Homo sapiens: one gene and its partners. The protein of the gene in region 1 purifies or fractionates together with the protein of each later gene. This does not show direct contact. Each region holds a gene or a part of one and is shown in the gene's direction. Other genes may lie near its edges. The genes, in order: DAAM1, FNBP1, MME, FNBP1L, ATP1A3, NPHP4 and ARHGEF19.

The links.
Region 2: the proteins of DAAM1 (region 1) and FNBP1 purify together in Homo sapiens (pull-down; one study listed by IntAct). This does not show direct contact.
Region 3: the proteins of DAAM1 (region 1) and MME purify together in Homo sapiens (co-immunoprecipitation; one study listed by IntAct). This does not show direct contact.
Region 4: the proteins of DAAM1 (region 1) and FNBP1L purify together in Homo sapiens (co-immunoprecipitation; one study listed by IntAct). This does not show direct contact.
Region 5: the proteins of DAAM1 (region 1) and ATP1A3 purify together in Homo sapiens (co-immunoprecipitation; one large-scale study listed by IntAct). This does not show direct contact.
Region 6: the proteins of DAAM1 (region 1) and NPHP4 purify together in Homo sapiens (co-immunoprecipitation; one study listed by IntAct). This does not show direct contact.
Region 7: the proteins of DAAM1 (region 1) and ARHGEF19 purify together in Homo sapiens (co-immunoprecipitation; one study listed by IntAct). This does not show direct contact.

What each region holds. Positions count from the first base shown.
Region 1 is NC_000014.9:59,324,484-59,328,455, forward strand, and holds part of DAAM1 (disheveled-associated activator of morphogenesis 1), read left to right. Parts: intron 1-1,180; coding exon 1,181-1,247; intron 1,248-1,476; coding exon 1,477-1,594; intron 1,595-2,026; coding exon 2,027-2,165; intron 2,166-2,449; coding exon 2,450-2,508; intron 2,509-3,972. UniProt on the Homo sapiens protein: Binds to disheveled (Dvl) and Rho, and mediates Wnt-induced Dvl-Rho complex formation. May play a role as a scaffolding protein to recruit Rho-GDP and Rho-GEF, thereby enhancing Rho-GTP formation. Can direct nucleation and elongation of new actin filaments.
Region 2 is NC_000009.12:129,892,945-129,896,916, reverse strand, and holds part of FNBP1 (formin-binding protein 1), read left to right. Parts: intron 1-920; coding exon 921-1,079; coding exon of another isoform or gene 1,080-1,099; exon of another isoform or gene 1,100-1,656; intron 1,657-3,972. UniProt on the Homo sapiens protein: May act as a link between RND2 signaling and regulation of the actin cytoskeleton. Required to coordinate membrane tubulation with reorganization of the actin cytoskeleton during the late stage of clathrin-mediated endocytosis.
Region 3 is NC_000003.12:155,083,129-155,087,100, forward strand, and holds part of MME (neprilysin), read left to right. Parts: exon of another isoform or gene 1-914; intron 915-1,029; 5' UTR 1,030-1,039; coding exon 1,040-1,199; intron 1,200-1,930; coding exon 1,931-1,966; intron 1,967-3,972. UniProt on the Homo sapiens protein: Thermolysin-like specificity, but is almost confined on acting on polypeptides of up to 30 amino acids. Biologically important in the destruction of opioid peptides such as Met- and Leu-enkephalins by cleavage of a Gly-Phe bond.
Region 4 is NC_000001.11:93,450,996-93,454,967, forward strand, and holds part of FNBP1L (formin-binding protein 1-like), read left to right. Parts: intron 1-3,972. UniProt on the Homo sapiens protein: Required to coordinate membrane tubulation with reorganization of the actin cytoskeleton during endocytosis. May bind to lipids such as phosphatidylinositol 4,5-bisphosphate and phosphatidylserine and promote membrane invagination and the formation of tubules.
Region 5 is NC_000019.10:41,970,231-41,974,202, reverse strand, and holds part of ATP1A3 (sodium/potassium-transporting ATPase subunit alpha-3), read left to right. Parts: intron 1-3,660; coding exon 3,661-3,815; intron 3,816-3,894; coding exon 3,895-3,972. UniProt on the Homo sapiens protein: This is the catalytic component of the active enzyme, which catalyzes the hydrolysis of ATP coupled with the exchange of sodium and potassium ions across the plasma membrane.
Region 6 is NC_000001.11:5,866,926-5,870,897, reverse strand, and holds part of NPHP4 (nephrocystin-4), read left to right. Parts: intron 1-3,001; coding exon 3,002-3,158; intron 3,159-3,782; coding exon 3,783-3,868; intron 3,869-3,972. UniProt on the Homo sapiens protein: Involved in the organization of apical junctions; the function is proposed to implicate a NPHP1-4-8 module. Does not seem to be strictly required for ciliogenesis. Required for building functional cilia.
Region 7 is NC_000001.11:16,209,558-16,214,129, reverse strand, and holds the start of ARHGEF19 (rho guanine nucleotide exchange factor 19), read left to right. Parts: upstream 1-1,477; 5' UTR 1,478-1,628; intron 1,629-3,916; exon of another isoform or gene 3,917-3,990; intron 3,991-4,572. UniProt on the Homo sapiens protein: Acts as a guanine nucleotide exchange factor (GEF) for RhoA GTPase.

The sequences.
Region 1 (3,972 bases):
TTTCTGTGTTTCCCATCTGTGTAATGCAATACCTCATCAAGTGCTGGCCTGTGGTTACTTGTGCCCTGTCTGTAACATAAAGAGCTTGTATCAGAATGTTAGTTCAGCTAATGATGTTTTCATAGTAAGACTTTGTTGATGAGGGAAGCAGCACATTATGTAGAGAACTTAATGTGGGTTTTAGCATTAGACCTGAATTCATATCCTATCCTAGTCCTGCCTCTTATTCCTGTGTATCCTGGTGAAGTTACTCAATTTTTCTGAATTTTGCTGTTTTTATAACTGCAAAAGATAGTGCTGGTGGTGATGATGATAATGACAGTGATTTTCCAGGAATGATGTAAAAATTGACTATAAAACCTATGGAATTACTTAGCCCCTTTGATAGGCATTCTGTGAATGTTAATTTCCACTACCTGTTCATTTCATCGTTTGCTATCATTTCACTGAGTCTAAGCTATCCCAACTTGCTTTCAGAGCTTTTCTCTACCACGGCTCTCCTCTCCTGTATATTCATATACTCCAACATGCTCTTCTTCTTGATATTCTGTGAACACTCTTGCATCAGTGCCTTTGCGCTTGCTGTTTCCTCAGCTTCAAAAGATCTTTCACAGATGTCCAAATTGTTGGTTCCCTAGTTCCCTGGAGAGAGACCTGTTCTAACCACTGTGTGTACATTATTCACCTCATCTGCCATCATTTTCTATTTCCTTTACCCTGATGTGTTTGTCTTCATAAAATGTATCCTGGGTGTGTAGAATACATAGTAGGAGCTCAATACATATGTGACTGAATAAATGAATGGCATGATCATTTCTTTTGTGATCTTTAATTCAGCTGGAAGTTAAGTGTAGGTATATGGGCATGTTTTTCCATAAAGGGAATCCATAGTGGAATCTGAACTTGATTGTTTTTAGATTTAGTTTTAATTTAATAATTGCCTACTGTATGCTAGGCATCGTAGACTTTTAAATTTTTCTCATATTGTGATCTGTTTCGCTCAGGTGATGTCTTTTTTTCTTAGAAAGAACAAAGTTGAAGCTTTCAAATTTTGTTACATTGTTCCTTTTTGAGATATCTCTGAAAAGTCAGGAAAAACCATGATATTAATGTCCTCAGTCTTATGCACCTGTGTTTATAGGATGTTCTACTTAATAACTTTTCTTTCATTATTTTTCAGGCATTTAGACTTTTTTGAAATGCTCCGAAATGAAGATGAACTAGAATTTGCCAAAAGATTTGAACTGGTACGTATGCTTACAATTATTCTGGTTTGATTCATCAGTTCACATTATTTCTGTCTGTAATGTGTGTTGTAGAGTCCACATGGACTTTAGGGCAACCTAAAAGCAAACTCAAAGCTCTATTTTGTTTCCTAAGTGGCAGGATTAGCTTCTGTTTGCTTTGAGTTTACTTTACACTGGGGAAACTGAGGAACTTAGATGTTTGATTTGATTTCTTTTTCCTGTGAAATAGGTTCACATAGACACAAAAAGTGCAACTCAGATGTTTGAGCTGACCAGGAAGAGGCTGACACATAGTGAAGCTTACCCGCATTTCATGTCCATCCTGCACCACTGCCTCCAAATGCCTTGTAAGTGTGTTCGTGACTCACATGTGTGCTTCTGAATGTTTGGACATTGTCCTAATGGGTTCTGGCTCCTGCACAGTGCTGATTACATTGGGTGCACACCAGGGATTCCAAGCCTTGGTTTTATGACAGCCAAGTATGTGTGTCTACATGGCTTAAAGGGTGTTACAAAATTTTTTAAATGAAACAAATTAAAATTTTGATTTTAAAAATAAAAAATATGCCTTACAACCTGTTCAGAAAGGGGTAGAGGGTACCTCTCAATCAAATAAATGATCATTGCATGTCAAAATTCCATAACTTTGGGAAGCATTGGTGCAGATGTTATAAACATCTCTGGTTTGGTGGCTTTAAAGGGTGACCACCATTGACAAATATTCATCCTAGCTTAGAAACAACTTGAAGATTTTTTTTCACTATTCTTTTCTTTTTTAGACAAGAGGAGTGGCAACACTGTTCAGTACTGGCTACTACTAGATAGAATTATACAGCAGATAGTTATCCAGAATGACAAAGGACAGGACCCTGACTCCACACCTTTGGAAAACTTTAATATTAAGAATGTCGTACGAATGTAAGTCTCTTCTTATTCTGCTGCTGTGAGATAATGGTGACAATGTAAGATATTTATTTTATCCTACTTCAGAGTAACAGCTGGGAGAGCTGAAATGTTCTAGGGGTCAAATATGAGTTACTGTACACATGCACTATAGCTAAGTAACATCTGGTCTTAAATGGGTTTCAAGCATGCACTGAGGATTTTCTCTGCAGTAGACTATTTTTGTACCTGGGGAGAATGCAGTTAGCAGTGGACCTTTTATATTTTTTGTAATAAATGCTCCTTGAACTCTTACACAGGTTGGTTAATGAAAATGAAGTTAAGCAGTGGAAAGAACAAGCGGAAAAAATGAGAAAAGGTAAATAATGAGGCCCTGATAAGAGGCTGTGTTATTGGTTATTGGGTGACCTTGATTTCCATATATTTTGGAAATTTACATTGATGTTTCTTGTTAGCTTGGTGCAGGCAGCCTTTCTTTTTCCATCTTTTAAGGGCATTTTGCACTGAGTTTCTTAAATTGAGCTATTTTAGTTGTCATACTGATTCTCAAATATTTTATCCTTTTATTATAATCATGTAAATGTTTTGAAAAGCTTATAGCATTTGCTGTTCAGTATTCCTTAAATCAAATTTTCTTAACTACTAATAATTCAAACCCTTCCCCTACTCCGTCATGGCTCTTTAAATCATACTGGGTTTTAAGAAATGTAATAAGGGACTTGAGGAATTATCCAAAATTTTAAAAGAGAAGAACAGGTCACTTGGTTTCTTTTTTTTTTTTTTTTTTTTTTTTGAGATGGAGTCTTGCTCTGTCACCCAGGCTGGAATCAGTGGCGCCATCTCGGCTCACTGCAAGTTCCACCTCCTAAGTTCACGTCATTCTCCTGCCTCAGCCTCCCGAGTAGCTGGGACTACCGGCGCCCGCCATCACATCCGGCTAATTTTTTGTATTTTTATTAGAGATGGGGTTTCACTATGTTAGTCAGGATGGTCTCAATCTCCTGACCTCGTGATCCACCCGCCTTGGCTGCCCAAAGTGCTGGGATTGCAGGCGTGAGCCACCGCGCCCGGCCTACTTGGTTTCAATAACCCAATTCTGTCCATGACCTTGATTTGGTACCAGTTATAAAAAGAGAAGTCATTCAGAAAATCAGTGACCATTGCTGAGATATGTGTTACGAAACATTAGCTGGCCAGCTATTAGTGTGTATTTGAATATGTCTTTGATATTATCTCTTAGTATCAAATGATAGGAGAGACATTTATGTCCATCAGTGTACCAGCCATACAGAGAAATGTATGTAATTTTCCTTCCTGTTTTAAAATATTAACAAATTGAAGTTGGCCTCTTTGTGGAAATAATCATACTGCCAGCTACCATGCTCTCACCATACTGGTTAACTGACTTCCTTTTCCTTGTCCAAGTTATTCACTCACAGCCAATGAAATACAATAGCATTCACCCCAATATTTAATGTGCTGAAAAGCAGGTCCCAGAGATGCCTAAGCATTTCCTTTTCTCTCATCACATTTCCACTGAGCAGAAAAGCAGGGCCATAACTGATATCAGAAAATACCAATTGTGAACTAACTACTGTTATGTTACGAGTTCCTCATATGTATTCAGATTGCTCCCAAATAAGTGACATTGCACATGCATTTTAAAAAATAAATTTCAGAAACTGCTACAAAAATGATAGAAACATTGACTAAAAATCAGGGTAAAGAGATTAAACCAAAGAGAAAATAGTCAATGAGTGGATATTTTAGGAATACACTCTAGAGCATGGAGACTCAAGTGTGCAGGTTGAGGAGAGCACTT
Region 2 (3,972 bases), on another chromosome or scaffold:
GCTCACGCCTGTAATCCCAGCGCTTTGGGAGGCCGAGGCGGGTGGATCACCTGAGGTCAGGAGTTCAAGACCAGCCTGACCAACATGGTGAAACCTCGTCTCTACTAAAAATACAAAATTAGCCGGGCGTGGTGGCACATGCCTGTAATCTCAGCTACTCGGGAGGCCGAGGCAGGAGAATCACTTGAACCCGGGACAAGTGGCATCACACTCCAGCCTGGGCAACAGAGCAAGACTCTGTCTCAAAACAAACAAACAACAACAACAAAAAAATTGGGAGGCTGAGGCTGGTGGATCACCTAAGGTCAGGAGTCAGACCAGCCTGACCAACATGGTGAAACCCCATCTCTACTAAAAATAGAAAGGTTAGCCGGGTGTGGTGGTGCACACCTATAGTCTCAGCTGCTCGGGAGGCTGAGACAGGAGAATCGCTTGAACCGGGGAGGTGGAGGTTGCAGTGAGTTGAGATTGCACCACAGCACTCTGGCCTGGGCAACAAGAGCAAGACTCCATCCCCCACAACCCCCCCAAAAAATAACAGACAAAAGAGAAGCAGTTGGAGCCACGAGGGTACCTTTCTCCTGAGAGAGATCCAAGTGAGACAGAAGAAGACTAGAGAAGAGAACCAAAGATTTATCCAGTGAGAAATACTTACCATTCTGGGAGGGAGGAGAAAGAGGGCCCTGGAGGACTTAGAGAGGGTCCCTAGAGAGACAGAGGTAAGAACCTGGACATTTCTGTGCAGAAGGAGATGGTTTTGAGGCAGTGGGTGAGGGGTCCGTGCATCTGAGAAGGTCCGAGTGGGGTGAATTTTGTGTGGACTTCATCTTCGACGACACTTGTTTCATTGCGAAGGCCACTGTTTGCTTCCTCCCTGCATTTGCCAAGACATCTAACATATCCTGATATTGCTTTTTCAGGTCAGAATGAAGGAACGATTTCCGTAGTTGAAGGAGAAACATTGTATGTCATAGAGGAAGACAAAGGCGATGGCTGGACCCGCATTCGGAGAAATGAAGATGAAGAGGGTTATGTCCCCACTTCATATGTCGAAGTCTGTTTGGACAAAAATGCCAAAGGTGCTAAGACTTATATTTAATACCATAAAAAAAAAAAACTTAAAAAAAATGGAGTTGTTTCTCCCCACAACCATGACTGTTACAGGCAGTTCCTCAAGAGACTGGCTGGCAAGCACCATAATGCACGTTCTCCTGTAGTCTCACGTGGACTTCAGGGTCTGGGCACCTGAATTGCCTTGTCTAGTTTGGGCTGTAATCAAGTTTCACTTGCTGATGAAATTTTATGTGGAAAGCTGCCAACCGCCAACTTACAGCTATGTCATTCAAAATCTGATAAACATTTCTTCTTTTGGCGGTATCTGTAGATTAAAAAAAAAGTTGCATTGTAGCTTCTCATCTTTCTGAATTTAAAAGCCGGCACGCATCATGCAGGTGCCAAAGACTTCCCTACTCTTGTTTATATCTAGTATCCACCATACACTGAGCTACATTAGGTGGTTACAGATTGTAACTTAATAAACTGAACTGTGTTAGTTTGTTAAATTGTATACTCATTCACTTGGGAGGAAGTCACAAGTGAAATAACATCTCCTTCTTGACTAAAGCAGTAAATAAGATTCTTATATTGGCACCAAAAGTGTGTGTTTTTACTTAAACCTGGTCAGCATCCTTGGTAGGGCATCACGAGTACCCTGTTCCATCTACATGATCCCAGACAACCAGCTGAAATCTGGAAAAGTTTGGTGAATTGACCACTTGATTTTTACATTGCATTGCTGATTTTCCAAGTGTCATCAAATTGACAGGTTTTTGTTGTTGTGTTTGTGTTTTTGTTGTTGTTGTTGTTTTGAGACAGAGTCTGGCTCTGTTGCCCAGGCTGGAGTACAGTGGCTCACTGCAACCTCCGCCTCCCCCAGGTTCAAGCGATTCTCCTGCCTCAGCCTCCCGAGTAGCTGGGATTACAGGTGTGCACCACCACGCCTGGCTAATTTTTGTATTTTTAGTAGAGACGGGTTCGCTCTGTTGGCCAGGCTGGTCTCAAACTCCTGACCTCAAGTGATCTGCCTGCTTCTGCCTCCCAAAGTGCTGGGATTATAGGCGTGAGCCACCGCACCTGGCCCAAATTGACAGTTGATCAGATGTGCTAGTGCTGTTTAGATGGAGTTACTTAAAAGGCAGAGCGTGTCCCTGCATCAGCTCCTTTTGGCTGTGATTTCCTCTCACACTTGGTTCGGTTTCTGTTGGTTTTCCAAGTAGAGCTGCACTCACGCTTGCCCAGGTGGGGCTATAAAGAGAACGTGGTGTGGCAGCAAATGCTTCTCCCCACAGACACAGATCTCAGCACATTGCTGTTCAAAGACTTTGGGGGTTTGCTTTTGTTTTTTTGTTGTTGTTGTTTTTGTTTTGTTTTGTTTCTGCTTTTAATCATTGGCAAGGTTTGGATTTACTGGAAATTATTTTAGAATTTCTGGCTCATTTTATACAATTAACTGTAGCCAGAATGAAGTAAAATGTCTCACCACATCGAAAGGAATCTAGGCCACATGAGAATTTGCATTTTTAAATTGGCATTGATGTGGGAGGGGAGATAGTGAAGTTGGTCACATGCGTAGATGGTTGCCAGGCATTTCACTGTGCCCATTTCCAGAATCCACCCCGAGATCATAGACAACCCACTACAAATGGGTCAGAATGAAGGTGTTGGGTCAGATTCTCTTTTTATTTGATTTTGAAAATTATTTCCTTGTGTCCTTCCTACTTTCAAGTAGGAAATTAGCCCCTGCCTGCCTCTACATTGTGGGTTCATTTGATCAGCTCAAGTCCATTTAAAGCTGATTTTCCAAGCAGTAGCTGCACATTCGGGCTCTAGAACCTAGTAGGGGTTCTGGATGCTAGGGGCCGTGTTTCAAGATTCTCACAGCCAGTTAACCTTTATTTAGTGACAGCCTGATTTTTTAAAAAACTTTTTTTTTTTTTTTTTTTGAGATGGAGTCTCGCTCTGTCGCCAGGATGGAGTGCGGTGGCACAATCTTGGCTCACTGCAACCTCTGCCTCCTGAGTTCAAGCGATTCTCCTGCTTCAGCCTCCCAAGTAGCTGGGACTACAGGCGTGTGCCACCATGCCCAGCTAATTTTTTGTATTTTTAGTAGAGACAGGGTTTCACCGTGTTAGCCAGAATGGTCTTGATCTCCTGACCTCATGATCTGTCCACCTCAGCCTCCCAAAGTGTTGGGATTACAGGCATGAGCCCGTGCCTGGCTTTTTTTTTTTTTTTTTTTTTTTTTGAGACAGAGTCTCACTCTGTCACCTAGACTCAAGGGCAATGATACAATCCTGGCTCACTACAACCTCTGCCTCCCGAGTTCAAGTAATTCTTGTGCCTCAGCCTCCCCAGTAGCTGGGATTACAGGTGCCTGCCACCACACCCGGCTAATCTTTGTATTTTTTTTTTTTTTTAGTAAAGACAGGTTTTCACCATGTTGGCCAGGCTTGTCTCAAACTCTTGGGCTCAAGTGATCCGCCCGCCTCAGCCTCCCAAAGTGCTGGGATTACAGGGTGAGCCACCGTGCCAGGCCCAAATTTCTTTTGGATACTTTTGCTGGCATAGTATCAATAAAGCCACCCATCCCGACCCCAGGCCTCTTTGTAGATATTGCAGCAAGAAAATCAGCTGACCCTTCAACCACAAGGATCTGTTTAAATGAGCAGTAGGAAGTTTCCAGCTTTACCCAGTAAACAAGTGAATGGGAAACCTAAGGTATTAAAATCTGACCTTTCTATCCGATGACAAACTCATTTCCAGTCTGTGAACTCCTGGACAAAGCAAACTAACCACTGAAAAACTCGAAAATAGGGCAAGACGACATTAACCTTGTGAAAGTCTGCTTTGAAAAAAGGCATTCTGTCAAGCTGTGTATTTTTTTCTTGATTATTCAAATTTATTTCGTTATTC
Region 3 (3,972 bases), on another chromosome or scaffold:
TTAATTTTCCCCCTAAATTTCTACAGTACGCTTTTACTGCATGATGATACAGCTTTATTTTGAACAGTGACCAAATGTGTTCTTTACAAAGAATATTGACGAGTTGTGTAGTCTTGAACACGTTGCCTGACTTCTCTGTGCCCCAGTTTCCTAATTCTTTATTCTATTCTGTGGCAGTGTCCACTTTTTGGTTTAAAGTTTTTAACACATCTCCAGTTGAGGTGAAAGATTTTAGGAATACAGGTATGTTTTTGCATACCCTGCTTTATACAGGACTACAAGTATCAACTTGGTAACTTTTTGTACTATTTTGTTTACTTATCCCCCTTACTCCCCTCTTAAATGGGATTGGGCGTGGTTAGGTTGGATATTCAGGTATCTTTTGGTACAGTGAGTGACCATTTTCAGAATGTTGTCTAACCAGTTAATAGATACTGGTATCAGTAGTAGTAGTAATTTTGAACTGTAAAAATAAAGGTTGTTTTTATGACTAAAATAAACTACTTCATGTGTTCATTCGTTTTGCTGTTTATCTATATTAATATTTCAAATTATTGCTTAGTCAAAACCTCAAGGTATTAGTCACTGGTTTTTGAGCTTATAAAGGAAGCCACTGGAGCAAGATATAAAATTAACCATTGATGTTAGTCCAGAGTTCAAAAGGGTGAGTTTAAAACTTTCTTAATGATGGTACAGCAATTATTTGCTTATAAACTGCTGAATTAATCCTACTTGAGTATTTAACCAAGTCTTACTGTCTAATTTTGCTGAGATTTTCAGTGATATACCAAAGCAAAACAAAACAAAACAACAGCAACAAAAAACAAAAGGTTGTGACTGAGACCTGTCAAATTCATTTGGCTCTATATACTTTGCATTCAGCAACAAAATTTTGACTTCTCAACAGCAAAAATGTATTTCTATTTTAAAATAACTGAGCCTTTTACTTTTATCCAGCCACATTAAGCATTTGGACATTTTCTTTTTTATTTATTTGTTTTTCATTATTAGTATTTTCATTTTTTGCAGATTTTAGGTGATGGGCAAGTCAGAAAGTCAGATGGATATAACTGATATCAACACTCCAAAGCCAAAGAAGAAACAGCGATGGACTCCACTGGAGATCAGCCTCTCGGTCCTTGTCCTGCTCCTCACCATCATAGCTGTGACAATGATCGCACTCTATGCAACCTACGATGGTGAGTTACTCCCACACCTGTGCATCCATAAGTGCAAAAGAGAAGGAAATCTTCCTCCATGCTTTTACCATCTATCCAACGAATGTGTTAAGGATAGAGGCACTTAAAGACTGACAAAGAGATTCATTTATAAAATGTAACATCAATATGTCAAAATAATTAACTTTGAAGTACGGTGCCTTTTATGTTTGAGCTAAGTTATTAATTGCAAGTATATTTAGTGCGCTCACGCTTACTTATGAGGAATCTAAAGTATGGTTTTATTTGATTAAAATATACACAATTTTATGGCCAGCTTTAGTAATAGTCATTAGTCAACTTTTGTTGTGTCATTGAAATTCTAAACGGCTTCACAGGAATTTAACAAATTTAATTTGAGTCTTGGAAGTTTTTTACAACAAGGATGAAAAAAGATTGATTGTTTAATGGTTAAAAAAATGATTACCAAGCAAAAACAACTGATTATTTCAATTTAATAGGCCTGGGGCTTCGTTGGTAGAGAAGATATAATAACACATTTTTCTTCATAATCAAAATTTTAAATTTAGATTTTACTTATTTTATTTTCTTATATTTTTTCTAACCACTGACAATGATATATAATGTTCAGTTTTTAGTTCTTGCTTTAAGAAATTGCTTATTTAATTGGCAGTTTTTAAAAGAACAAAAGAAAAATAGAAATTTAAAAATTTGTGTTGCCAATATTTATGTATATTCTCTCCTTTTTCTAGATGGTATTTGCAAGTCATCAGACTGCATAAAATCAGGTAAGAAATGGTTTTTACGTGTAATAGTTATACAACTGATGTATAATATTTAAAATTAAATGCTAATCTTAATTTGCTTTGTTTACACTTTTATTCATTGTAGATCAATTATTTATGTGTCTGGCTCTATAATCAATGGAAATAAAAATATATTTAAGTAGTAGATTAATTAACTTGTTTACTCTGAAAAATATATTACTATTTTCAGCCCTGGGCTGTATAGCAGGGCAATAGAAAACTATATCGCTATTTGTATGGAGCTTGCCATGTAGTTGAAGAAAGAAAATGAACACATATGAAATGGTAAGTTTCGTATCATTGTGTTAAATGTCTCAGTGCACCTCACTAGGTGGGTGAGAAGAAGGGAGTGAGATGTAGGCATGTAAATCTAGGTGGAGAAGTTAAAATCTGGGAAGAAATTTCATTTTATTTATTTTTTTTATTTTTTATATTTTGAGACAGAGTCTCGCTCTGTCGCCCAAGCTGGAGTGCAGTGGCGTGATCTCGGCTGACTGCAATCTCCGCCTCCCGGGTTCTAGCAATTCTCCTGCCTCAGCCTCCCAAGTAGCTGGGACTACAGGTACCCACCACCACGCCTGGCTAATTCTGTATTTTTGGTAGAGACGGGGTTTCACCATATTGATCAGGCTGGTTTCGAACTCCTGCCCTCAGGTGATCTGCCCCCCTCGGCCTCACAAAGTGCTGGGATTACAGGCGTGAGCCACCGCACCCAGCCTTAAATTTGGGAAGAACCTTGAAGCAGGGCTAGAATTTAGATGTGGCGGTGCAGAAGAGGGAATTCCAAACACAAAAGAAAGAAACTATGTTATTGAGAAGTAGTAAAAGTGTACGCTTGATAGAAGGACACATTATGGAGAACCTTGAAATCCATGTTTAGCCTTGATATTGTAATACAGGAGAAACAGATATTTTTGAACAGAGGAGTGATCAGGCCAAAGGTGAAAGATGATTCTGCGAATGTGAGGTTGACTGGATTGAGTGAAAAGGAGGGCAGGCAGGTGGGGGCTGCTTCTGTACTCCAAGTGTAAGCTGAAGAGGTTGGCCTGTGGTGAGAGAAGAGTACTATTGAGATAATGGGGAGGGAGAATTGGGTGACTCAGTAGAACTGACTTGCTAAATAAAATGAATGAATTGAGAATGATGCCAAGTTTTAAAACCCAAGGGACTAAAGAGAATGGAGGCAGCCCACACAGAAATAGAGAGGTTATGAGGTGGATGTGGATGTGTTTGGTCTAAGATGAAAATAGACAGGAGGAAGGTAGAGATGAGGTTTAAGAAGCTGGAATTTGGATTTGAGATCTGTCAGTTTAGGAGTGATAGTGGAAGCCTTGGAAGTATTTGAGTTCTCAAAAGAAGAGAAGAGGTTCAAGGGCTAAACTTAAGAAGAGGTTCAAGGGCTAAACAACATCAATGATTAGAAGAGAAGAAAAATAAGTCAGAGCAGAAAACAGAGAAGTGTATGAAGCTATATAAATCCCATCAATTGGAGTGTGGTGAAAATGGGAGTATTTCTTCTTTCTTCAAGAAAAAGGAAGGTGGTAGCTGAGGGCAGCACCTGGGATATGAACACAATATTTGTGTCCTTTAACAAGAGATTCTAAACCTCCTTTCTAACATCTATGTGTCTTATAAGAAATAAATAAACTGTTCCAAATAATTTTAACCATTTTCTGCTGGATATTTTTAATTTTATTTATTTATTTATTTGAGGCAGGATCTTGCTCTGTCACCCAGGCTGGAGTGCAGTATTGTGATCACAGCTTACTGCAGCCTTGATCTCCTGGGCTCAAGGCATCCTCCTGCCTGAGCCTCCTGAGTAGCTGGGACTATAGGCACCTGCCACCATTCCTGGCTAGGTTGTGGGTTTTTTGTTTTTTTTGTTTTTTTTTGTTTTTTTTTTTTGTAGAGACAGGGTCTCACTATGTTGCCCAAGCTTGGTCTTGAACTCCTGAGATCAAGCAGTCCTCCTACTTGTCTTCCCAAAG
Region 4 (3,972 bases), on another chromosome or scaffold:
TGTAATAAATTTGAGCTGTGCTTACAGGGATTTCTAGTGTTCCAAATGAGTAAATAAGTTAGTGAATATATACTACAGTCACAGTTTTGCATTGTATTCTGGGTAATACCAAGGAAAGAGATGATACTGTCTTCACTTCTTCAGGATGCGTGGTAACATCTTAGGCATTGCTTATTGTGTTCATTTCTTTATTACATAGCAAGAATGGATGGATCAGATAGCCAAATATGAATTAATAATTTCACAAAGCACAGATTTTGAAATTACTAGCTTTTTTTTAACAGATAGGGACATTAGAGATTGGAAAAGACCTATGTTTAGTAAATAAGTTTTACTTATTAAGAAATAGGTTTTTAGTTTTTGAGGACCTAGTTAAAGTTCGACAGAAAAAATCTGTGTATGGGTTGTGAATGTGTGTATAAATATGAAAAAAATATATGGCTGAGCACCTCACATTCATATGATTTACTGAAAAATTTGCTACCCAAGGAAAATGCTGGACAAGTCTGGTAGTTAGAAGATGGATTCAAATATCTGATTTAATTTATAAGTGCATATAAATCTTTTTTATGCCTTAATTTCTTGGTCGATATAATCTTTGGCCCTTAGTTTAAGAATGTGTAATTTAAAAGCCATTGTTATTTTCATCATATTATTTATATTATTATTATTTTTGAGATGGAGTCTCTTCTGTTGCCTAGCCTGGAGTGCAGTGGTGCGATCTCGGGTCACTGCAACCTCAGCCTCCCTGGTTCAAGCCATTCTCCCACCTCAGCCCCCCGAGTAGCTGGGATTTCAGGTGCACACCACCATGCCCGACTAATTTTTGTATTTTTAGTAGAAACAGGTTTTCACCACGTTGGCCAGGCTGGTCTTGAACTCCTGACATTGTGATCCGCCCGCCTCGGCCTCTCAAAGTGCTGGGTTTACAGGCGTGAGCCACCGTGCCCGGTCTTCATCATATTATTAACTAAATGCATTTGACAAAGCTTATATCTTTTTGGAAGAAACTGAAAAATGTGGGTTGAGTGATAGATTAGGTGGATAATTTATGTATTATCCTCAGTGTTAACCTTTTAATACTTTATTATCTTGGCTTCATAACACTTTATATAGCACTTAAATTTACATTGTAAGTGACTAGATTGTCCTTGAGTGTAGAAAGGCTGGATTCATCTTTGTTTTCACTGACCAAGACAATGCTTGTAGGTGATCATGCATGTTTTGCCCAATTGCATTAATAGTTGATTGCATTACCCAGAGTATTGATTACTAATTAGCAAGTGTATCTTTAGGGTTCTGAAGGCCTTTGTAGATGGTGATAGGTTAGGTGATCTGGATAACAGCTCAAGAAAGTCTAAAGCTGAAACCAAAATTATAAAGTTAAGTTTTACTACTTGGGTTAAACATTTTTGTCAAGTAAAATGGTAAAAGGATGGGGAAGAAAAGACCTACAGGTAATTTCTGGTGAATTTACTTGATTGATAGCTTGGTAATGTGACTGCCTAAATAATTGGTGAAATCTTAGGCCACATTAATAGATTTATCTGTAACAAAGGAATTGGGTCTCATAGTCTACTGGTTAGACCATATCTGTAATATATATGTATATTTTTAGAGATGGGGTCTTGCTATATTCTCAGGCCAGTCTTGAACTCTGTGCTCCACAATCGTCCTTCCTTAAGCTCTCAAGAAGCTGGGACTGTCTATAATATTGACTTTAATTTTACTTCACATTTTTTGGAGGGTGCTTGTCTAGAGGAGGTTGACAAAGAAAATTCATTATTAATGTAAACTGAATTGCTTCTCCAAAAGTAAATGAAAGGCCGTGAAACTGCTGTAGGAATTCAGTTTTGTTTTAAAAATACAATAATTTTGTGTCTATTATTTGGGAAGCACTGTTATGTTTGGTGAGATTTATGAAGGCTTATGATATTGGCCCTGCCCTGACAAAAGGTAGAGTTGCTTTGAGATGATATAACTTTACTGTAAACTCCAAAATACTTCCCTACATTGATACCACTGCCCAGAATGCCCTCTGTTGACCAATTCCTATCAACCCCATGCCTCCAGACTACCCATTCTGGATATTGTCTTATGGGACTACCACCTTATATTACGGTTATTATAGTTATTTCTTGTGTATTCAAATCTTAGGGAAATTGTCATGGTATAAATACTTAAATATCTTACATTCCCTTTTGTTGGTAGAAATTGTTGTGTTCAACATTGTATTACAGACGTTATTGCTATTAGTTAAGGAGGATGAGTGAGAGGTATCAAGATATCTGTTTATGTCACCATTCCATAATGACTATAATAAGTTGGAAGCTAGAGAGCTGCCTCTAACCAGTATCTCCTTTGCATAGCCACTCATACTCCATTTACTTCCATTTGCTTGCTTTCTTTGCCTTTTTCTTAAAATATTTGCTCTCTCTCCTTCCCCCACCCTATAAACCTATAAAATATGATTTTGGCTGGAAACTTTAAAAAAACCTATTCTACCAACTTTTTCCTCTGTCAGCTAGTTTGTAGAGAGGAAATAGTAAGAGAAATAGTAATGGCTTATAAATGTCAAATACCTTCTGTGTATATCAACAAGTGCTGTCTTATTTAATAATCTTCAATCTTTAAACATTTTCACTTCAATAGCAAAAAAAAATCTGTCTTGGGGAATATATCTATAGAATATTAAAAACTGGTAGGAAAGGTTATGTAAAGGTTTTGTTCTATAGAATGTGAAAGCCGTTCCATATTTCAGTTCAGGCCATGTCTATCTAATACACCTGAAACACGTAAACAGGACTGATGCTTGTTCATTCAACAGATGTTTATTTCATGCCTATTATGGCTTCAGCACTAAGCTAGGCTTTGTGGGGCATACTAAAAGAATCAATTAGATATCAGCATGAGCCTCAAAGCAACCCTAAAACAACTAGAAAGTAATAGATGGACTTTAGGGCTATGAAAAGTGACTTTTCATTCTAGGTATCACAGGAAAATCTTTAGGAAGACTGTCATTTGACCTAGGTTTTGGAATAAGAAGGGTTATGCAGGTGGGGGTTCCTGACAGGTTCCTAGAGGGCAGATATTGTGTCTTACTCATTGCTTATTCATTGTCTGATTCATTGCTGTATCCTGCCTGGATTAGCCTGACATTAGTAGGGTCTTTAATAAATGTTTGTTGGACTGACCTGAGTCTAGTGTTGCGTTTGACTTGAATTTGAGTGCACAATGTCTGAAAGTAGTGATGAAGGGTAGACTGGAACCAGGCAGGCAAAGAGGTTGGTCTGGCTGATTGCTTGATTCATGAACCTCTTGTGTGTGTGTATGGGTGTGTCTGTGTGTGTGTGTGTGTGTGTAGTTACACATTTGTATATAATCAAACCACTTTTCAGACCATTTAAAAATTCACAGAAGAAAATCTTAGTTTATTGGTAGAAGGGATTACCTCTTGCTTCTGAATACTTTGGTGGCAGGAGGGGAATACCTCTGGGTTTTAGAAGATGAAAGTGTATTTATTTTAGCGCCGCTGCAAGAATATTTGAAGGATGTTATTTCCTTTAATAATATGTTACTAATTTGAAATTAGTTTTATTTTTAAATATATATTATTACTACAGCTCGTTTATATTGTTTTTTATTTTCCCTTTATCTGTGACTGTATACTGTAGGCCCTCCATATCATTTGATTTCCACGTCTGTGGATTCAACCAACCATGGACTGGAAATACTAATTAAAACAATCATACAACAATAAAAATAATACAGATCTAAAAACAATACAGCATAACAACTATTTACACATATCATTTACATTGTATTAGGTATAAGCAGTCTAGAGATGACTTAAAATATATGGGACGATGTGTGTAGGTTATGTGGGTTATGTGCATATACTGTGCTGTTTTATTTTTATTTATTTATTTATTTATTTATTTATTTATTTTTGAGACGGAGTCTCGCTCTGTC
Region 5 (3,972 bases), on another chromosome or scaffold:
CTGGAGTACAGGCATGCAATCTCGGCTTACTGTAGCCTCCACCTCCTGGGTTCAAGCAATTCTCCTGCTTCAGCCTCCCGAGTAGCTAGAATTACAGGTGCATGCCACCACACCAGGCTAATTTTTGTATTTTTAGTAGAGATGGGGTTTCACCATGTTAGCCAGGCTGGTCTTGATCTCCTGACCTGAAGTGATCCCCGCACCTTGGCCTCCCAAAGTGCTGGGATTGCAGGGGTGAGCCACCTCGCCCAGCGAGGTCTTCAACTCCTGGGCTCAAGCAATCCTCCCACCTTGGCCTCCCAATTTGCTGGGATTACAGGCATGAGCCACCACGCCTGGCCTCCCCAAGACATCTATGCATACACAGTACACACACTGTCTCAGATACAGCCGTCTGCTCCTTCCGAATCTTGTGCATCATGCTGGAAGCCTGGGAGGCAGCTGTGAGCAGAGCAGACACCATCCCTGTTCTCACAGGGCTGGAGAGACAGCCTTAAACAAGTTAACAGATATGTAATTACAAATTGTGATATATGCCCCGAAGAAAGCAGGCCGCTGTGATAGATAATAGTGAGGGTCCTGCCCAGATGGGGTGGACAGGGAAGGCCTCTCTGAAGTGAGGGAAGAAATACCTAACTTCCGTCAGGGGCCAGGCACGGGGGCTCACGCCTGTAATCCCAGCACTTTGGGAGACCAAGGCGGGAGGATCGCTTGAGCCCAGGAGTTCAAGACCTGCCTGTACAACAAATTAAGACCTCAAAGATCAAAAAATTTTAAAAATTAGCAGGGCGTGGTGTTGCACACCTGTAGTCTCAGAGACTTGGGGGGCTGAGGCAGGAGGATCACTTGAGCCTGGGTGGTCGAGGCTGCCATGAACCATGATGGTGCCACTGCACTCCAGCCTGGGATAGAGCGAGATCCGAGACCCTGTCTCAAACAAACAAACAAAATAACTTCCAACGGGGGCATTCCAGATATACCCAAAAGTAAAGCAAAGGCACAGTGGGCCCCTGCGCCTCCATCCCACCTGCAGCGGCAGTCAGCGCACGGCACACCTTGTTTCTTCCCCACCACCTGGAACACACACTGGATTATGCTGATGCACATTTGTCACCATTTCATCCATAAATAGTTTAGGATGAGAAACCCCTAGTTTGTGGAGAAGAGCACAATGCAGGGAACGAGAATATCAGGTGGGAGCGGCCCAGGCCCTTATTGCTATGCAAGAGACATCAAAGCAATCAAAGAAGCCACACCACAGGCAGCCTGCTTCACCTTCCCTTCCCTCCCTCCCTCCCTTCCTCCCTCCCTCCGTCCCTGCCTGCCTGCCTTCCTTCCTTCTTTCCTTCCTTCCTTCCTTCCTTCCTTCCTTCCTTCCTTCCTTCCTTCCTTCCTTCCCCTTCCTTCCTTCCTTCCCCCTCCCCTCCCCTCCCCTTTTTTTGATGGAGTCTTGCTCTGTTGCCAGGCTGGAGTGCAGTGGCGTGATGTTGGCTCACTGCAACCTCCACCTCCCAGCTTCAAGCGATTCTTCTGCCTCAGCTTCCCACATAGCTGGAACTACAGGCACACACCACCACTCCCAGCTAATTTTTTGTGTTTTAGTAGAGATGGGGTTTCACCATGTTGGCCAGGATAGTCTCGATCTCCTGACCTCGTGATCCACCCGCCTCAGCCTCCCAAAGTGCTGGGATTACAGGTGTTTGCCACCGTGCCCGCCTGTTCTTTCTTAATGATTGACCTCATTGTTCATGGGCTAATCTTTTTACTTATTTATTTATTTAGAGACAAGGTCTCACTCTGTTGCCCAGGCTGGAGCGCAGTGCTGCAATCATCAGTCACTGCAACCTCGACCTCCTCAAGTGATCCTCCCACCTCAGCCTCCCAAGTAGCTGCGACCACAGGCTCGAGCCACCGTGCCTGACTAATGTTTATTTTATTTTATTTTATTTTTTTGAGATGGAGTCTTGCTCTGTTGCCCAGGCTGGAGTGCAATGGCACAATTGCGGCTCACTGCAACGTCTGCCTCTGAGGTTCAAATGATTCTCCTGCCTCAGCCTCCCAAGTAGCTGGGGTTACAGGTGCCCACCACCACGCCCAGCTAATTTTTGTATTTTTAGTAGAGATGGGGTTTCATCATGTTGGCCAGGCTGGTCTTGAACTCTTGATCTCAGGCAATCCTCCTGCTTCGGTCTCCCAAAGTGTTGGGATTACAGGTGTGAGCCCCAGCGCCTGGCCTGGATTAATCTTTATTTTGTTTACTTTAGACAACCTGTACTGGTTGAATATTTATTGAGATATGGCATGCATACAGTGAGTTGGGCATATTATATCTCATTAAAATATTCAACCAGACAGGGTGTATAAATTTTTACACATGTACACAGCCATGCAACCACCAGACCCCAGTCAAGATAGAAAACCATTCCAGCCCCCCATTTAGGTTTTGTCTGCTCTCTTCCAGTCTATATCCCTCCTCCTAGACATAACCATTATCCTGACTTTTAGCCCAGAGACGGGTGCTGAGCCTGCTCCAGTTGGAGTTGGATGCTAAGAATGCTTTTGTGTCTGGCTCGTGTCACTCAGCACGGGATCCAAGGTCCAGCTGTGGAGTTGTGTCCGTAGCTCGCCCCTTCTTGCTGTGTAGTATTTGACTGCATGGATGTACCGTGGTTTATTCATCCCTCACCTGTTGATGGACATGGGGTTGACTCTGGCTTTTGGCTCTGATGAGTGGTGCTATGGTGAACATTCTCGTACTTGCTTTTCGCTGGGCATAAACAGTCCTCCTCTCTTTTGGGTATAAAACCTAGGAGTCGGATTACTCGGTCGGTGGGGTGGGGGATGTTTGATAGCAACTCCGAAACCATCTTCCAAAGTGGTTATTTCAAGAATGTTTCCACAAAGGCGATGTGGTTGGATGTTTATGTGGAAAGGTAGGTGGGTGAGGGGCCAGGTGTGGAGACTTATGCCTGTAATCCCAGCACTTCGGGAGGCTGAGATGGAATCACAGCCCAGAAATTAGACAAGCCTAGGAAAAGTGGTGAGACTCTGTCTCTACTAAAAATACAAAAATTAGCTGGACGTGGTGGCGCGTGACTGTAGTCTCAGCTACATGGGAGGCTGAGGCAGGAGGATCACTTGAGCCTGGGAGTCGAGGTTGCAGTGAGCCGTGATCATGCCACTGCACTGCAGCCTGGGCAACAGAGTGAGACCCTGTCCCAAAAAGAAAATAATGGTGGGTGGGCTGGGGGGTAGAAAAGGACGCTGGACAGGCCGGGCGCGGTGGCTCACGCCTGTAATCCCAGCACTTCAGGAGGCCGAGGAGGGCAGATCACGAGGTCAGGAGATTGAGACCATGCAGGCTAACACAGTGAAACCCCGTCTCTAATAAAAATACAAAAAAATTAGCCGGGCGTGGTGGCAGGTGCCTGTAGTGCCAGCTACTCGGGAGGCTGAGGCAGGAGAATGGCGTGAACCCGGGAGGCGGAGCCTGCAGTGAGCCGAGATCGCACCACTGCACTCCAGCCTGGGCAACACAGCGAGACTCTGTCTCAAAAAAAAAAAAAAAAAAAAAAAGGACGTTGGATGAGGGCAGAGGAGGGGCAGAGGGAGTGGGGCTCCCTGGCATGGGCGCCTGCTCTGAGCCTGCCTGTGCCACAGGCCGCCTGATCTTCGACAACCTAAAGAAGTCCATTGCCTACACCCTGACCAGCAATATCCCGGAGATCACGCCCTTCCTGCTGTTCATCATGGCCAACATCCCGCTGCCCCTGGGCACCATCACCATCCTCTGCATCGATCTGGGCACTGACATGGTGAGCCCTGGCAGCCACCCTTGGGGCCCAGGAGGGTGGAGTCCTCCCCTCTCCGGCTCACCCGGCCTCCTCCGCCTAGGTCCCTGCCATCTCACTGGCGTACGAGGCTGCCGAAAGCGACATCATGAAGAGACAGCCCAGGAACCCGCGGACGGAC
Region 6 (3,972 bases), on another chromosome or scaffold:
CCTGCTGCCCATGGAGTCCTTCTGGCGTGGCTGCAGCTGTTGTGAAGTGCACAGGCGGTTATCCTGCAGGGCGTGCCCAGTGGGGCTGGTCTGGTGTTCGTTTCAGTTAGACCCAGGTTATGCACTTGGGGCAGGACCTCCACAGACATTTGCCGTGTCCTCTACGAACATCATACTGTGAGGGACACCGTGTTGCTTTGTCCTGTTACTGGCGATGTTACTGTTTTCATTCAGTTAAGATGACATCTGCCATGCTTTTTTCCTGTAATATCAGGAAATGTCTAGTAATTAGAAAGTCATGAGTAAGTATCTTGTTGGGAGATACTGAGGCCGTTCAAATACCCTATTCTTCATCAGACTTTGACGCACTAGGTGTCAGTGTGCACTGATGACCTGGCCCGAGTTGGTTGGTAGTGGGATGCTTGCCTGCCATGGATTTTCCAATTCCATCATTCCTTCTCTGTTGATTACTGGTATTTTAAGTAAGGTAGAGCTGTGCCTTCACCCCATTCACCTATTTACTTTTTATATCCTTATGAACAATGAATTTCTATTTTATTCATTTTGTTACTATCATTATTTATTTTGTTGCTCATATTCGTGCCCTGACTAACCAGGGCAGCCTCTTCAGGCCAGCTCCTGCGTCCTGTTGATTCACCCCTGTCCTCCTTTGAGTCTTTCCTTACTGCCCAGCACAGCAAGACGCCCCAGGCTCAGCTTGCATTTCAGGAGTGTCAGCTATTTAGCTCGGGTTCCTTTGGTTGGAGAATGATATTTAGAAACCAAGATTTGAGCGTTAGATGTACTCAGTACTACTGGGATGTCACTGCTGCTAAGTCCCTCTCAGCAGAGACCTAAGAGGTGTATGCCTGTGGGTGCAGATACATACATACACAATATGTGCATATCATGCATATATGATGTATAGATATGTGCGTGTATGTGCACAGACTACTGTTTCTAGTGTGCTGAAGACCATGAATTTGCAGCAGTTCTTCCAACACCAATTTAACATCACGGGTTTCTTCCTGTTTTTTTCCATGTTTGTAATTCTCATTTCTGCTCATGAGAAACCTAGCTCGCATTTGGCTTACTTATTTGCCTAATTTCCTCTGTATATAACCAATCTGCTGACCACACTGGCCAAATCCCTTTGGCTACAATACCACTGGCCATCTTTATGTACGTGTATATTTCAAAACATCAGTACCAACCAGGGCTAGACACTATCTGTCAGTGCAAGATTTCTGAAGGTGCATTTGTCTTTAGGTCCTTTGTGTCCTGTGATTTACATTTACTTAAAGAATTCTTCTCTGGATAATTACAGCACCAACTTGATAGAAGCTTAGATTTGTTTATTTTTAATACATTAACACTTCTATTTATTTTAGTTTTCAAAATTAAAAACAAGTAAGTCAAAAATCAAACTATAAAGCAAGATATATTTGGAAGGATCTTGTTTCCATTCTTGCCCTGCCCCACTCTCTCCTTCTCAGTGTGTGCAGGTGTGAAGTGTGTGCATGTGTGTGTGCATGCATGTGTGTGTGTGCGTGCATGTGTGGGTGGTGTGTGTGTATGTGCATCCATGTTTGTATTTGTGCATCTGTGTACATGTATGGATGCATGCATGCATGTGGGTGTGCATGTGTGTGTGTGTGTGTGTGCATGTGGGTGGATGTGTATGCATGTGGGTGGATATGTGTGCATGTATGTGTGCATTGTGTGCATGTGGGTGCGTGTGTGTGCATGTGTGGGCGGATATGTGTGCATTGTGCGTGTGTGCATGTGGGTGCATGCATGTGTGCATGTGTGGGTGCATGCATGTGGGCATGCATGTGTGTGCGTGTGGGGGCATGTGTGCATGTATGTGTGTGCATGTGTGTGTGTATGGGTGCGTGTGTGTGCATGTGTGGGTGGATGTGTGTGCATGTGTGTGTGCATTGTGTGTGTGTGCATGTGGGTGCATGCATGTGTGTACATGTGTGGGTGCATGCATGTGGGCGTGCATATGTGTGCGTGTGGGGGCATGTGTGCATGTATGTGTGTGCATGCGTGTGTGGGTGCGTGTGTGCATGTGTGGGTGGATGTGTGTGCATGTATGTGTGCATTGTGTGCGTGTGTGCATGTGGGTGCATGCATATGTGTACATGTGTGGGTGCATGCATGTGGGCGTGCATGTGTGTGTGTGGGGCATGCGTGCATGTATATGTGTACATGCATGTGTGTGCATTTGTGGCTGGATGCGTGTGTGCATGCATGGGTGCATGTTTGCATGTGTGTGCACGTGTGCCTGCATGCATGTGGGTGTGCATGTATGTGTATGTGTATGGGTGCATGTGTGGGTGCATGAGTGCATGCGTGTGTGTGGGTGCGTGTGTGTGAGTATGCATGTCTCTGTGGTTGTGTGTATCTTGAAACAAATATAGCCTTTTTATCAGTTGTCCCAATTAATACCTCTTCAGACAATATGGTTTTTAATGAGTAGCTCTTTTGAAACCAGGAAAGTTTCTATTTCTAACCCCTTTGGTTTAGGCACAGCCTCTTTTTGCCATCTGGAATCAAAGAGCTTGTGCTGACGTGCTTGACCGCGAACTTGGCCCTGCCACCACCCACTCCAGGACCTCCTGGCCTGACTTGCGCACATGCACACAGGGTGTCGGGAGGTGGGATCATGGCAGGAGTAGTTTTGACTTGGGACTGCAGACCTTCTCCACTGGCATTTAAGAAGTGTGCTGTACTCGCGAGGAATAATGGCAGTGTGGCTGCTTGGGTGCCCTGTGTGGGTGCCGGCCCAGACCTTGCTTAGCGGTCCCCTCCTGGTGGAGACCTGCTGCTGCAGACTCAGTCCCTGCCTTTGACGATGCCCGACCTTCCCCGCTCATGGCAGTGGAGGGTGAGGGGGTCTTGGCAACAGTGGAGATACGTGTGCTGTCTAAGGAGGGACAAGAAGCTGCTCACAAGCCTCGTGCCCATCCCAACACTCAGCGTGGCCTCCTCACAGGTCTTGTTCCGAGCGAGTGGTGGCAAGCCCATCGCCGTGCTCTGCCTGACTGTGGAGCTGCAGCCCCACGTGGTGGACCAGGTCTTCCGCTTCTATCACCCGGAGCTCTCCTTCCTGAAGAAGGCCATCCGCCTGCCGCCCTGGCACACATTTCCAGGCAGGTCCTGCACTGACCCTGCAGCCCACATGTTGCAGGCTCACCTGTTGGAAGTAGATACCTCTTGAGGGTGACAGATGGCCTCATGGCTTCATGCCCTGGTGCTGTCAGAGCAGCACGTGGGGCCTGGGGAATTCTCTCTCCTGCCTTTATGGTTTGAAACGGTGTCCCTCTTGCCACCTCTGAGATGACTAGGTGCGCATTTGCCGGCTGAGTCTGCCCTTCTAAAAAATCCCAGCTCCCGCGGCCCAGGTCCAGGTGTGCCTGGAGGAACACCTACCTCCTCACCTGACGGCCCGCGTGTTTCTGGTAGGTGCCCCTTACAGCAGAGTGCAGGCTTCCCTGCTCCAGGGAGCTGTGTTTTCTTTTTTGTGGCCCCCTCGATTATTCCCTGTGGAGATGGCTGCAGCCGAGCCGCAGTGGGCTGGATGGGCGGTGTCCATGCAGGGAACACAGTGCTTGGATGCTGTCCTGGGAAAGGTGGCGGCGTCCGTTTCCCCAGCAGGTGTCTTGCTGAGCACCTGTGACGAGCCTGTCCTGTCCTATAGTGTGTAATGTGTGGGGCCTTCTCCACACAGGCTGGGGCTGTGGAGAAGACTCTTTTTGACATTTCCCCTGCTCCAGGTGCTCCGGTGGGAATGCTTGGTGAGGACCCCCCAGTCCATGTTCGCTGCAGCGACCCGAACGTCATCTGTGAGACCCAGAATGTGGTAGGTTGTGTTGTGGCCCCAGCTCAGGCAGATCCTTCCCAGTGAGTCTGCGCCCCTGTCGGCTTCCCCACGGGTATCCTGGGATCCTCTTCATTTTAGGTTTT
Region 7 (4,572 bases), on another chromosome or scaffold:
GATGACAGAGTGAGACCCTCTCACTTGAGGACATTTTATTTTATTTTTTGACAATAAATACATAAAATAGACTGGGTGCGGTGGCTCACGTCTATAATCCCAGCACTTCGGGAGGTTGAGGCGGGTGGATCACTTAAGGTCAGGAGTTCAAAAACCAGCCTGGCCAACATGGTGAAACCCTGTCTTGACTAGAAACAAAAAAAATTAGTAGGGTGTGGTGGCATGCGCCTGTAATCCCAGCTACTGGGGAGGCTGAGGCAGAAGAATTGCTTGAACCTGGGAGGCAAAGGTTGCGGTGAGCTGAGATCCCACCACTTGCTCCAGCCTGGGTGACAGAGCAAGACTCCATCTTAAAAATAAATAAATAAATAAATAAATAAATAAATAAATAAATAAATAAAATAAAATAAAATAAAATTTACTGGAGGATGTACAAAGGTTATAGCAAACACTATGACATTTTGTATAAGGGACTGGAGCAGCCATGGATTTTCGTATGGGAGGGTTCTAGAACCAATTCCCCACAGATTCTGGGTACCAAGGGACAACTGTACTCACCTGATAAGTGGTAGCAGTATCTACCTGACAGGGTCATGGTGGAGATTAAATGAGTAAATACATGTGAAGTGCTCAGGACAGTGCCTGGCACCTAGTAGGTGAACAATAAGTTAGCTTCATGACTATTAGTCTGTGTACACATCTGCATATTAATATTAGGTGCCTGGCAATTGCTGGTAGCTCAAACAGATGGCAGGTAGAATTAGGGGAAAATGCAGCTTCCCATTCCACAGGGTTGGGAAGATTGCATGCCGGGCATAGAGCATGCCCTTCTTATTGGAGGCAGTTTGACTTGGCTATTTGGCTTGGTTTATTGAGGGCTCAATTGGTATAGTCTGGGAAGGCTTCATGGTGGAGGCGGCCACTGGAGATGGTGGGGCAGGTCATTCCAGGCCGTGGGAAAGGATGGGGATTTGCAAGCAGTGGCTGTACTAGATGAGGAGAGGCTGTCCAGGATGATGCCACATGTCACATCATCAACTTTCAGGACTGATTTCTGTCTCCCAATCATAGGGATGAGTGTTCCAATTTGATAGATGTAGTAATAGGATCAGAGAGGGTCATCAGGGTTCTCAGGGTCCCTAAGGAGTGCAGGGCTTGGGAGGCTCTCTGTGAAGCTCCCAGGATGCTCCCCAGCTCCAAGAAGTCCCCTGAGCATGCTCATGTTTGGGAAGCTCCAGAAGAGTGGTGACCTGTCTCCTAGGAGCAGAAGCACTGCCTCCCCCGTCTTTAGGACCTGGGTGTAGGGTCCTTCAGAGCCTCACTTGGGCATAGGACTCCCATTGTTCCAGCCCCCCTCTTGTACCCCAGACTAGCCAAACCGGTTCTGGGGAAGGGGGGCGGGGAGCAGGCACGTTGAGACAGCCGCCTGCCTCTCTCTGCAAGGTTCCCTCCTCCTTCACCTCCCCCTCCCTGCCCCACACAATACCCAGGAGCTTGCCTTGCTCGGCTCTGGGGCCATGCTGACATGCTGACATCGCCCCCTGAGGACTTGGCTGCAACCCCAGAGCCCCCAGGGTGTCCCGGAGCCCTGGACCGTGCTGGCAGCTGGACGGAGCTCCCTGGCTGAGGTAGGGCCCCACCTGGGTGCCAGCAGTCCCATTCTCTTCCCGCCAGTTTTCCCCGCTGAGTGAGCCCTTTGTGCTGCCCGCCTGGTCTCTGATCCTGGCTCTGACCCACTATGGCCTTCTGGGGCTCTGTGAACCACTTGGCCTGGATCCACTTTCCAGCCATGACTTCCCACCTGGCTTTATTCCTTAAAGGGCAGAGAGGCTCTGGCAGGGTACCAGCTCTCCTGGGCAGCAAGGCAAGGGGCACCCGGGAGGGGGCAGGGAAAAGCTAGGTACAGGAGGCCAGAAACACTTTTTCTGATCATGGTAGTGTCCAGGGACTCTCTGGCAGCCTTGCTAAGTGGGCCCATCGTCTTCTGTAATTAGCAGCACCCACCAAGGGTACTTTCCTCGGCCCCTGCCCATCCTTCTTGGCCCAGAGACATTTATGATGAGACATGTTTCTTAGAGAGGGCATTGGGCGGTGGTGCGGTCCCTTAGGAGCCACTTTACAGATGGGAATACTGAGGCCAAGGGATGGGCTGTGAATTGCCTAAGGCCACACAGCTGGTCAGTGTCAACACTGGGCCTCAAAGCTTGGGCGGAGGTTATTCTTTTTGGGCTCCAGAGTGGCCCTTGCCTAGTAGACACAAGAGTCTCTATCCTGTGATCGTGCCTTGGGAAGGTAATGTCCCTGCTGTCTGGGGCCAGTTCTCTTTCTGAGGTTTTTGTTTGTTTTTTTCTAACAGAGATGAGCTACACACAATATGAACACAGCTTGTCCCTCTTAGCTCCCCAGCATTGAGGTTGGGTGGGCCAAACCCCTGGAGGGCCACAGGGCTGGCATCCCAGCTAGATGGGTCATTCTTATTACCCCTTGGCTTGAGCATAGGTGGAGGCTGACACACTCCTGACTTCTTCCCTGCTAGGGACCTGCCTCCAGCTTCATCTCCCCGGGAAGCCTTCTATGTCCCCTCTCCCCACATTCACCTAGCCTTCTCCTCTGCAGCCTTAACTGGGGGTGCTCCTGCTGCAAAGCCTCAATGTTTTGCCTACTTATCCCTGTGAGCCATGGGAGAGAGGGTCCCTCCCTGCCCTCCAGGAGCTTCCAGAACCCAAGTGCTAGAATCTCCCAGCATACAAAGGGGCAGGGGGCATGTGTACATGCCTGCACATGTGTGCCCCCAGAAGCAAGTGGGACTTCTGTGTCGAGGACTTCTGATTCCTGCAGAGAAAGAGACCCGTCTGTGGGCAGGGGCCTCCTTGTGCACACTCCTGCGATATAATGTGTGTCTCAGCCTCACTCCTTCATCTTCCCCATCTGTGTGAAGGCCTGAGCTGCCTTCTGTCTAGAGAAAGACTGATGATAATAAAAATACTATCCTATTTGCCGGATGAGGAGACCGAGGCTTAGGGAGACTCGCTCAGATGGGTACTTTTCAGGCTAGAGGGACAGAGGCTGATGGTACAAGCCAGAGTGGCCACCGTAGAGAGGACCCCTTTGGAGCAGCCAGTCCCCTTCTTCCCACCCTCCCAGACAGCAGGGTGAAGGGAGCAGGGGGAAGCAGTTGAGAAGCTGTGCAGAGAGACTGGGGCCTGCCATAGACCCAGCCATCTCTCGCTGGGTCCTCTTCTCCCTCCCTGTCTCCAATAGTGACTGACACTGTCACTGTTCAGGCCAAGGCTTTCCCTCTAAGTGCACTATGTATTTCAGCCGTGGAGCAGTTAACTATCACCTCCTCCAGGAAGTCTTCCTGGAATACCCAGGTTGAGTTGAGCCGAGCACCCTCCTCTGATGGTTCCTCTGGCTTGGCTCTTGCCAACCTGGATTGTAACTGTTTTCATTTTTGGCTCTCCCACTAGACTGGCAGCCCACGGGCATGAAATGTTTGTCCATCTGTCTCCCTGGGTTTTCTGGGCTTCATCTGTGTCTCTGAGGATCTGGTTGGCCTGAAATTGTCAGTGTCTCTGTCTCCATCTCTGGGTCCCTGAATGTCTCAGCATCTGTGGTTTTTCTGTTTTTGAACGTCTTGGGGTCTTGGTTTCTCAGTTACTGGCTAAGTGGTCTCTGTTTCTCTGGGTCTCTCTCAGTCTTCATTTCCTGGCTCTCCTGGTCCTGCCAGGCTGGGCACTGCCCCTTTGGCCTGAGGGGGCCTCTGGGGGGTCCTGGCTGCCCGGCCTGCCCACAGCGAGGCCAGGCTAGGGTAGGCCCCCGCCCAGCCCGCTGCCTGCTCCCTCCCTCCCTCCCTGCTTGCCTCACCACAGGGTTTGATGAATCAAACTCTTTGTCTGGGTGGGATCTCCCCCAGCCAGCTGGGCAGAGAGAGGGCTTCCCCTGCCGGAACAGCCAAACAGCATCAGCAGCGGGCCTGGGCCCAGAGAGGTGAGGGGCTGCAGGAGGGAGGCTGGCAGAGGGCCACAGGGCAAGAGCTGTGGGGGCTTGGGCCTCTCAGATCATCAGGCCTGCCCCGATCGGAGGGCTGGCTCCCCAGGGATAACTTCCTGCCCAGAAAGGACCCATCCAGCCTGGCCCACCCAGGGGCTGGAAGCTGGGGTGGGGGACAGCCCCTCTTTCACTCCAAGCCGGGGGTGCTGGGGCACCTCTTTGAACTTCGAGAAGGCCCCTGCCTGATCTGGGTGGTGGCCCGCCTGCCAGTCCATGACCCTCCCAGCCAACTTGGCATGGGTGTGGGCACCACTCAGCACTGAAGGCCGCAACTCTGGGCAAGGGTCGGGGAGATGGGGGGAGAAACATCAGAGCAAGGACCTGTGGGCTGGTGTGTGTCTGTGTGCATGTGAAGGGAACAGGAGGGTGAGAAATCTTGGGTGCCTGTGTAAATATCGGACGGGTCAGCGTGTTTGTGAGGAGTTGTCTGTGAATGTATGCGGTTGTGTAAAAATGTGTGTGTCTGTGACTGTGTGAGCCTGAGTTTGAAATGTCTGTATCTATGAAAGTGTACATGTC